Regions from separate parts of the Homo sapiens genome. Here region 1 is linked to region 2. The links come from fine-mapping of genetic effects on gene expression. A gene starts in region 2. The other region holds a variant in brackets. All regions are shown on one strand. Distances are from middle to middle. Region 1 overlaps LOC105370775 (a long non-coding RNA gene). Region 2 holds the start of RASGRP1 (RAS guanyl releasing protein 1).

Evidence for each region.
Region 1: its variant is fine-mapped to the expression of RASGRP1 in whole blood (TOPMed, PIP 0.94).

The regions. Positions count from the first base shown.
Region 1 is chr15:38,683,270-38,688,645 of GRCh38, reverse strand. All of the region lies in intron 1 of LOC105370775 (a long non-coding RNA gene), which reads right to left. Among named protein-coding and RNA genes, the nearest start is that of LINC02694, 11 kb to the left of the region's middle. The variant G/A (reference allele first, on the strand shown) is at 2,558.
Region 2 is chr15:38,561,981-38,567,356 of GRCh38, reverse strand. It overlaps RASGRP1 (RAS guanyl releasing protein 1), which reads left to right and starts at 2,543. Exons shown (of 17, transcript NM_005739.4): 1 at 2,543-2,763. The coding sequence starts at 2,729. RefSeq lists enhancers at 1,937-2,126, 1,968-2,479, 4,862-4,961, 5,022-5,151 and silencers at 2,337-2,386, 2,547-2,786, 2,817-3,036, 3,047-3,246.

The sequences.
Region 1 (5,376 bases), 120 kb before region 2:
TTACGTGCAAGATGGAGGCAGGCAAGTCAGATCTCTTTCACTGTCTTAATTTTCTTACTGTTATAATTTTTTGCAAAGGTGGTTTCAGTGTTTTCTCTAAAAGTCTTCCAGTCAAACCCAGGAGGTAAGTAAGGCACAGAAGACCTACAGCTTAGGGCACCCATACAACTGTGCCCACCTCCCCACAGTGGACACCCCACAGCACTAGCTGCAGTTCTCCTGATCCTCACTAGAGTAGGTCTTGACATATTTGTCCTTCCCAAATGTACTTGGAATTACCTAACATGCATTAGGCCCAGCTGTGCTTATGGTGTTGCTCAGCTCCCTCCCACCAAGCAACTGTAATGGCTGATGCCTTCTGGGTGCTTCCTGTTGAGAGGGCTTTATGCATCATCTCAAGTCATCTTCACGATACCCCCAGACAGCAGTGCTGCTAGCATTCCCATCTCACAGATGAGGACACTGCAGTGCAAAGAGGCTACACAACTTCCCAAGCAACTAAGTGCCGTGGTAAGTTATGCATAAAGCACATGGGAACACTGGTAAAAGAGTAAGTTAATAAAAAAAAAAATAGTCATAACTAACGCTTACTGAGCTCTGTGTATCAAGACCTGGGCCAAGTGCTGCGTGAACTCCCTTTCCTTAAATCCTCGTATCAGCTGGTGTGGCAATTACATCAGAAGCATTGGCAGGCTCTGCTATCAAGGAGAGTGACCACATTAAAAAAGGCACTGTCTTTTGACCTTTTGCTCTATTATCTCTCGCTCTGACTGCTAATGTTTCAAACGGAGGTTGAACAGAACCAGCTTTCCCACTGCTTCCTTGAATGTCCTCTCATTCTTCACAACCATCATGTCTGGGATAACAGGTGGGCTCCCGGTTCTTCCCCTCCCAGAACTCCAGCTGTGCCACTAGGAATTATTATTATTCCCAACTTAGAAATGAGGGAAGAGAAGCTCAGATAAGCTAAGTAACTTGAGTGAGTTCATTCAGCTTTCAAGGGAACAAGTCATGGTGGGGAAAGGGAGGTATAAACCCAATGTCTGGCTCCAGAGCAAACAAAGAAGATTAGGGCATCTCAGGCAAAGGAAACAGCTCAGACAGAAGTATGAACACATGTGTTTGATTAAGAGCTCTAGATGAATGTGTACGGTGGAGTATAGGGCACTTGGTGAGCAGCAGTTGGGTAGTAAAGGAATTTGTATGTTGTAGGGGAGGAAAAAACTTTTCCTCTCCTCTCTCACGTTCAGCCTGTGGGGTCTGCAAATTGAACTGACAAAAGACAGATGAGCAAGACAAAAAAAAAAAAAGAGTTTATTTACACCTGCAACGGAGAGATTCAGTGAGGAGTAACTCATCCCAATAGACAGAGATAAAGGGTTTATATACCAAACTTAGCTAGGGGACTGGGGAGGAGTGTCAGGGCTTCAGTGAGAAGGTATAGAAGGTTCTATCAGGCTTTTTGATGTGAATAGAATGGGCAGTCTATCTCCCTGGCAGCTGAATTCACAGGGAAGACCTCAAGGGAGGGCTACTGACAGCTGTATTTTCTGAGAGGTTCTGCTTTACAGCTTTTAGAGAAGTTCAGATAGTAATTTCTTTCTGCATCTTCTTTAGCTTAAATGTTTTGTCTTCAAAATATTATGTTGGTACAAAAGTCATTGTGGTTTTTGACATTAAAAGTAATGGCAAAAGTAATCTTGATACCAATTACAGGGGTTTTGAGTGGTTTCCCACCATGCCTGGTAAAACATGGCTCTTTATCCTTCAGCCAGAGCTTTTTAAAGCAGTGTTTTGATATGATTTGTTCTACTTATCACTAAAACCTTTGGCCAGGGTATATCAAAATAATTTAATTGATTTAGTTAATTAGCAAAACCCATAAGGAAGGATAACAGCACTATTATCCCACTTATGTGAAGAAGGAAACCAAGGCAGAGAAGTTAAATGATGTGCAAAGGATTGTGGATTATTAGTCACAAAGCAAAAACCTTGTGACCCGGTCTTCCAAATCCTGGTCCTGAACTCTGTCCAAGAAAGCTGCCAATCGGCGTACACTTGCTCCCGTACTAAAACACAGGAAGAGCTCCAAGCCCTAGTTACTCCCACCCTTGCCACATTCAGGGCCTACTTGAGCTGCATTACTTATGTGCCGTCTCTTCCACAATTTAGCCGACAAATGCCCGCCACTCTCAGTGTCTTTTGTGTTTGTAGGTGGAAATATTTATTTACAAAGCAAGAAAGAAAATTCAGAGCCCAGCTGACTTTGCCATCCTATGAGCCTCTGAACTGCCTGTTGTACTTTCCCTCTCTAGGTCAGAGCAAAAAAATAATTAAACTTCAGCAAACTGAGTGACTGCGTTTCAACAAGTTTAAAGCATCTCATTGAAGAAAATACACCTCAATCTGGTTTGAGATCCTCGGCAGACTTTGTCACCCTATCATGTTGGGTAAATCCTTTGAAGAATTCTTAGAACCTCATCACAGGAAAGGGTGGCTTAGGGGCCTCTAGCTGTTCTCTGGGCTCCTTTGAGCTCAGAGTTTTGATGTTAGGTGG[G/A]GCCAAGAAAAATTGTTTGCAGGGAGGGAGGAGGATGGAAGGAGTGGCAACCATGGGCCAGAAGAACCAGTCACATAAAACCTCGGCTAGCCAAGTATATGACTTCTGAGGACAGAGGGCCCCTTCTTCATACACTGCTATGTCCCCAGCCTCCAGCACGGCACAATAAATATATTTTAATATAGTTCAAATATATTGCTGACTAAGCAATGAAGAAAATAGGAAGAGGGGACTCAACCAGGACCCTGGAGACAGTGGCCTGGGGAGGAGTCCTGGTCCCAGGCCCCCAGCTACATGACCTTGGGCAAGCTGTAGAACTTCCCTAAGCCCATTTCTCCTCTAAAATGGTGGTCATAGGAACATCTACCTAACAGATATTGGGGCCAAGGGAAGACTTCCCCATCACCTTCTGATGTTTCGCTGGAAATTGCTGACAAAAGCTGATTAATAGGAGACAAGGCAGACACATGTATTTGATCATAGTTTTACATGACACCGGAACTTTCAGCATGAAGGCCCAAAGATACAGGGGGAACTGTCTATTTTATGCTTATGTTCAACAAAGTATGGACAGAAAGGGTCTGATCTAACACTTACTGACTGGGGAATCCCAGCACTGTCCATTTCAATTCTTCTGGGTGTCTTGTGCAGTGTTTCTTCCTACTGGGTGTGGGGCAGGACCCTCTCTAGGATGGGGGTCTGATGACCTACAGTCAAACAAGGCAGGTCAGATAATTTCTTCATGGCCAGTTTTTACACAGAAAGACAGTAGGAAAGTTAAAGTAATATTTTTAGGTTATGGCTGGCTTGGAGGAAAAGGGTTCTGGCTTCTATTACCCACTTTGAGGAAAAGGGATTCTAGTTTCTATGGTTAGCCTTGGGAGAGAATGAGAGGTCAGAGACAGGAGGGAAGGACAAAGTCAGAGAGAAACTGTTGCTTTTGAGGCCTTCATTTCGGGGTATTGTTTTCTAAGACCATACACATAGTACCCATGAGAATTGAAGGAGAAGCCTCATAAAAACACTTAGCCTGGTGTCTGTCACCTACCAAGTGCCCAATACATGTTAGTTATTATTAATTAAAAATTCAAGATTGTCCTCCCTGATCCCAAAAAGTCTGTCATTTCAGTGAACTTCCAAATTTTTTTTCTTTCTTATTCCTAGAAATGGTATTTGCAAGATGGGTGTATTTCTACATCTTTGTTCACCACCAAACAAACCAAAACCATTTCCTCAACCAGTTCATCAGTTCCTCATAAACAAAGCACAACTTCTCAGCCAAAAGTTTGTCATCAAAAGCTTGCTTTCTTCATTGTTTAACTCAGTTGTGTTTTGTTTCTTATTTTCTGGGAAATGTTGTTTTCCTTAGGTTCTCTTGCCCAGAGCCAGCAGTCAGGCACCACTGTTTCCATCTCACTAAGCACATCATAGGCATCCTGGGGAGATAATGGATTCCAGAGAGCAAGGGGCCACTTACATGGAAGAGCCCAGAGTCCCTGGGTAAAGGGTGACAGTGCAGAAACCTCACTAATGCACTCTTTCCATTACCATTCTGCAATTTTTCCTGTCTTCCACTATTACCTTCGATTAAGCTTTACTCTTTAAAACCCTTCATCTGCCCCGGGGTCATTATCTTTCATCTGACACAGCAGTCGGCAGCCAGAGATGGCCCTGGCACTTCTCGGAAATCTCAAGGTTTGGGGCCGGATAATTTTTTAGAAGCCTCCTTAACATGGTTCTTTACCTTGAATGTTTTCAGCTTTAACAAAAGCCATTTGAACACGGGTCTGGAAAAAGTGATATACTTGAAGAAAAAAAAAAAAAAGTCACTGGCTTTATTTGTGTTCTGTTCCCTGGAGGTGGGCAGGCCAGAGTGGAGGTAGACCACTGAATTGATTTGTTTTGCAACTGATTTAGCAGCTATGGGTAGATTCTTGAATTTTCTTTGGTGTGTCATTTTAACTCATTTTGTGTCCTGACAACTCTGGAAACCCGGGCTACTCCAGTAGCTCTTTCACCAGCCAAACCTGAGAAGAGAGAAACTGAGGTGGGCCAGAACTGATAGGAAAGCTGTGCTATGACCCCAAGAGAATCTCACTCTGGAGCACTTGTCTACCAAAATGTTGGAAAATCTTTTATTTTCTAACACTCTGTTTCACTTCCCCACACTCCCACTTGCATCTTCCAGAAATAATTGAAATCCTGGTCCTTAGTCTCTACATCATTTAAAAGTGTCTGCTCCTGTAATATGTGTGTGCTGCCACTGGATGGCACCAGAAGTCACAACTCTGTTGGTATACTATGTGCCAGACACCTTGCTAGGCATTAAGAATCCAGTAGTGAACAAAAAAGACAGGGTCCCAACCTCTCTCTCTGAGTCAAGCAGGAAGGCAGACCTTAAACAAAATATTATAAATATTTGAATGACAATGCTGAGAGGAAGTGTCCAGAGGCTAATCCTGGGAGCGGGCAGAGACAGCAAGGTTCACACATGTTCTATGGCCCTCCCTGCATTCTCCAGCCACCTTGCAGTTAGGCAAGGCCTTGTGACCATTGAGGCCAATGAGATGTGAGTGAAAATCATATGTGACCCCTTAGAGCCAAGGTAGAGAAAAGTGAGTATAATTTCTCTATGCTTGTCTCTTCCTTTGCTGTGGTAGCTGGTAACATGATGGGTGGCAGAGCCTCTGCTAGACTGAATCCCTGGGTAAGTATGTGGAGGACAGCCATCATAGAATCATCACTAACCCCATGCTTCTTGACCCCAATCCTCCACAGCTCATGTTGGATAGGTAGCACAAATTTTTATTGAATTAAGC
Region 2 (5,376 bases):
CAAGTGAAGTGCAGAGTACTCAGAAAGTCCAAGAGAAAAACACTCGCTGGGCATATGTAGGCCTCTTTCTTTAGAAAACTCAGCAAGACTCATGTATTGAATGAATTAATAACCTTGGTTTCAACCATTTGTATATATGTGGACTGTAGGTGTGCAGATGTGTGTAACTGCCTACATGTGCACTTAGTATTATGCATATATGTATATTTACATATAAATATAATGATGCATTTACATAAAGGCATCCATTTGGCATACATACCTATGCATATGCAGTATAAGGCTGGATTATTCCCCTGCCACACACAAAGATTTTGCTGTCCAAAGACTCAGTGCAATGAATGGCATGGAAGGGGCTCTATTTTCAAGGGTGAAGCAATAGAGAAATACCGAAGGCCTCGGATAACCTGTGATGGGGATCCCACGAAAGCCACCGGGGACAGTGCCAGTAAGCTTATCACTCCTGCCATAGACAGCGGACTTCAAAGAAAAACTGAAACCCTTTCTCCGGAAATAATCAGGAAGGATCTTATTTTCTTCTTTGAGGTCAGCACATTTTGCTTTTCAAAATCAAATCCACAGCAGTTCATTAGTAATGTCCCACAGGTACTGCCTCAAGTTGGCAGCTGTGGAAGCTAAAGAAGCATAAGACCTGATTCTTGACCTCGGACAATTTACAGTTTAGCTGTGGAGGTAAGACAGGGACACAGAATATTATGTGGCAATTGAAAGTGTAAATATTATAGATTTAAGTAGGGTAAAGAGCTCATTCTGTAGTAGAGGGGTCAGTGAAAAGTAATTGTTCACCTGGTAATAAGAGAAGATCTCTGTGAACAAAGTCTAAGACTGCAAACTTAGGACTGTTGGGAGATAGTCAGATAGATTCATATATAGATACAAATCTTTACCATCCTCAGACATCCGCCAACTTGGTTGTTTAGGTTGTAGGGCTTACATGAGGAAGGGTGTATAATAGATAACTCTAAAAATGTTTGAGCCTTAGACCCAGTGAGTGAGAAAGAGTGTCATCATTTAATATTCTCCTGACATTCACCTGCCCCTTCTGCATCTGTGGCTGTGACTGAGGACTTGGTTCTTTATATCACCCAGTGTTCATGAGGATTCTCTGGAGAAATTTCTTGCTGGTCTCAGTATCAAGAAAGGGGGATCTTCTCTTGAGCAATTTTGTTTTTGGTCTTGCATGTGATAGGAATTGAACTTTAGACAAGGCCTCTCTTTAAACTTGACTGCTAGAAATGCAGGAGACAAATTTTGGTCCCACCTGTAGCAAGGGTATTTGACTCTATGAGATGCATTTATTTCAAATGATGTTCATTTTTGGCTCCATCTTGTGTGCCTCATTTTTCATTTCACACACTTCTTTTTGTAGGTTATGTGCTCTTGTAAGCTATCTCGAATTCTGTTTTAAGGACAAGGTAGCATATAAATATAAGGAAATATATAAATGAAACAGAGGAAGGCTTTAAAGTCCAGAACACTATGGCCAGGAAGACAACTATGACTGTGGCTAGAGTTATGGTCTGTGGCCGTGATAATGAGTGTGTTATTAGGGCAGTCCAGCAGTGATTACAGGGAGTCAGACAGACCTCAGTCCAAGTCAGAGGTCTCTCTGCTGTTTATTAGTTGTATGATCTAAGGCATAGCATTCTCTAAACCTTCATTTTCTCATCTTTACAACAGTGATCTCTTTGTATCAGGGAGAGTGGATTAAATGAGGTAATGTATAGAAAGCACTTAGCACAACCGCACTCAATCATTAGCTATTGAGATTATCAGCACTATCACCTGGACAAGCAGCGGATGGGCCGCCCCTCTTGGCCAGGTCTTCTGTGCGCACTGACGTTGTATGAAAGTTGTCCCCACATCTCCTACACCCACCGACGCCAGGCGGCCGCGTCTGGGCCAGATATGGATCACGCCTGTGGAGCGCACCTCCACACAGGCAGCCCTCGTCCAAGGTGCAGGGCGCAGGGCACAGGGCACATGTCTACGGCCCAGTCCTGCAGACGGCTACCTAGAGACCCCAGGGCACAGGTTAAGGCAACTTCACAACTGTCTTTCCGTTCCTTTCCCCTGCCGGACTCCGCGCTCTGATATATACAGGAGAGGCCCTGGAGGGGAGAAGGCGTCCTCACTGCAGTGCTCCGAGCAGCGGCCGCAGGAAGAGGCGTGGAAGCTGCGGGTCGGCTGCGGGAAAGGGGGTCCCATGGGAGCCGCTAGGCGCAGCCCGTTTCCCGAGCTGAGGTGGAGGTCGACGGGCACAGGTGCCCTGCAAGGCGCGGGCGTGGTAGCCGGGAGCCCGCTCCTCTCCAACTCCCCTGAGACTTAACCCTTTGGCCAAGAGAGGTCGAAGGCGGGCAGGGGTGAGAGAACCGCGCGAGGCGCAGGCCGGGGCACCCGCGGAAAGGGGGCAGGTTTCGGGGAAGAGCGGCGGGGCGCCGCACGTTTCCTGCAGCCGCCAGCATCAGCGTGTCAGGTGGTTGCCAGGCGGGTGTGAGCGCGCGCGCGAGGCAGAGGGGGCGCGCTCGCACAAAGTTTGTGCCTGCGGTGCACCTCGGTCGGGCTCGCCGGGCTCGAGGGCTGGCGGGCGCCGGGGCTACGAGGCCCGGGGGGGAGAGAGCCGGCAGGCGGCGGCGGTGGTGGCGGGGGCGATGCGCCGCGCCCGGCCGCGCTAGGTGAGCCGGCACCGGGAGCGCGGGCCGCGGCCATGGGCACCCTGGGCAAGGCGAGAGAGGCTCCGCGGTGAGTAGAGGCGGCCGTGGCCCTCGGGAGCGCCTGTGTCCTTTCTTGGGAAAGAGGCCCCTGCCCGTCGCCCCAACACCCCGAGGGAAGTTGAGGGCGGAGGGGGGCCGGGGTCGGCCGGAGTCCCGGGACACCAGCGCGACGGGCGGACGTGTCCAGAACGCCCGGCGCGCTGCGCCCGGGGTTTCGGGGAGGGAGCTGGGGCTGAGGGGTGGTAGAGGGGCGGCCGCGAGGCCAGAGCTCGTCCGGTGAGATCTGCTAGGGCCGAAGCTCTTCGCGGAGCCGGCGCCCGCCCGCCGACTTCCTCCCCCACATCTCCACGCCCGGCATCGGGACTCCCACTCGCGGACTTTCCGCGCTGCCCGCACCTGCTGGGGCGCTGGGCTCCGGCTGCGCCACCTGGTGGCCCCTCCCGGCCCTGCCCAGAACGGCCGAGGAGCTTGCAGGGAGCCCGCAGAGGTGGCACCCCTCGGTTGCCCCTGCCCCACGGAAGTTTCCAGATCCGTGGGTCAGGGAAACATATCGCCTTCCGTATGGGAAGCTGCACTCCTCTCCCCCTCACTATGATTCTATAGAGGGTCTTGGATAACAGAAGTTGAAGAAAGAGGGACAGTGAGTGAAAGGGCTCTTGGCCAGGCAGCTTTGAGTTTGTAGCCAAAGGACCAGAACTAGGCAACTGCATGAACAAAGGCCTGGCCTCGGCGTAGGGGCTGGACAAGTTGTGCACTTCACAACTCCATTCACATCGACACTGATGGGACTGTGCCTTGCACCACCATACCCAGTAGCGGCAGGAAGCTTGCGATGCTGGACTTCCCGTGCTTATAATCCCAGGAACGAAGGATTCTTGGCCCTGTATGCACGCCCTGCCTCTCCCCATCCAGGTATCCCCTGAGGGTCCACCACTGTACTTTGCACTAGATTCAGAAGGAGGAGTTCAGTACATTAAATTGAGTATTGTAAGGGGAAGAGGACGGGACTGGAAGGAATCCATACTAGAAGTCAAGAGAGTCACCTTCCACTGCAAAGAAAGTTGTGGAAGTTCCAGTTCCCTTGCTCCATTTCATCTCTTACTTTTCTAGGCGGATTTCATAAAAAGCTCAGCCTGAAACTGACCTCCACTGAGATACCTATGCCTGGAGAGGATTTCACCTAAACCAGTTTAGAGTTTTGACGGTCTCCTTCAGCAAACCTATGGGGCTTTGGTTACTTTTAGGCTTGGAAAACACCTTCAAGTTAATTTGTTTCTCTCGGGGTTTTGGTTTTTTCATTTACAGGAAAACATTTGGCTACTGTATTTTTTTAAAAAATATGCCTTTACAGACTCAGAGGCCATTCATTCTATGGATTGTTAAAACACCTTCGACCTGCCTATAATAGAGCATTTTATAAATCCTTGTCTACTCCCATTTCACCAGAAAAGGCAGAACGATTTGAGGATTTTTCACAAGGCAACCAGTTAAGAGACTGTACAGCAAGAAAGCCAGGTTTCCTAGTCTATGGTGCAGATAATCCCCATCTTCTTAGAACTCTGAGGCTGCACTTTGGCTTTTAGTACTTTCTCTTCTCCCTGTTCTCTCATGGCCTAGTCCTCTGAGTCTCTCTGGGCTCCATACTTCCCAGATTGCTTTTGTCACCCTTTCTTCCCTTTTACTACCCTATACTTTACCCTGATCCCTTCTAGTTCTGGTAAAAGCATCAACCTTCAAGAATCCACTTATGAAACAAAGCGGTTTCTCTTACTGGTGACACTAGGAAACTTTACCAGAATTAGAAAACAGGGCAGGATTAGGAGTCTTGAATGGTCAGTGTCACCAACCAAGAAAGAAAATGGAATTTTCCTTGGATCTGTAGCCACCTCCCCTCCACCCCTAGCAGGAAGAGCTCTGTCAGTAGATAGAGCCTCTAGTTGCAGTTGCCTCTTCTCCAAGGTCTAGGGAGAAGTATTGTGGAAGGCCTGAGAGAAGGAGACTTCTACAATGAATGACTTTATTTTTTTAAAACCTTTCCCCTACTCTGCCTTTGGTGGAGGTCTTAATGGTGACAAAGGCAGCAGCTGGGGCAGAAAGCTGAGTAATCCCAGCAGTGGCTATGTAGCCCCAGGTGTAGAGAGTTGTTAGTGCTTCCAGGAAGGGAAGGGCGCCCACCTGGGGCGCACTGCATGGGCCACAAGGGGCTGGCTTCTAGCCTGTCTCTGCAGTGGTGGCCAGGCACGTTGCTCTTCTGATTCTGGACCTCCACACTGTAGAAGGGGGCTTTGGAAAATGACCATAAAGAGTCTGTCCAGCTCTAGGGACCTGAGGACAGTTCTGAGGGCCTGCAAGAGGAATATGGGCTGAGATTCAGCCTTTACATTACCAGTTATGCTTTTGAAGGATTTTGCTTTCATTTTAAATTGAATTGACCTTTTCAGCCTCTCTGTGATTGTCTACTACTAATCCTGATGTTGTGAAATGTGCAGAGTTCCAGGCACAGTCAATATTTATTAAATGAATAAAGCCAGAGAGGTGCTGGGTACAAATCTCAGGTTGATTATATATGAGTTTTATAACCTTGGCTATGTCATTTACCCTTTTTTAGATTCAGTTTCAGTGTCATGAGATGGGGATAACA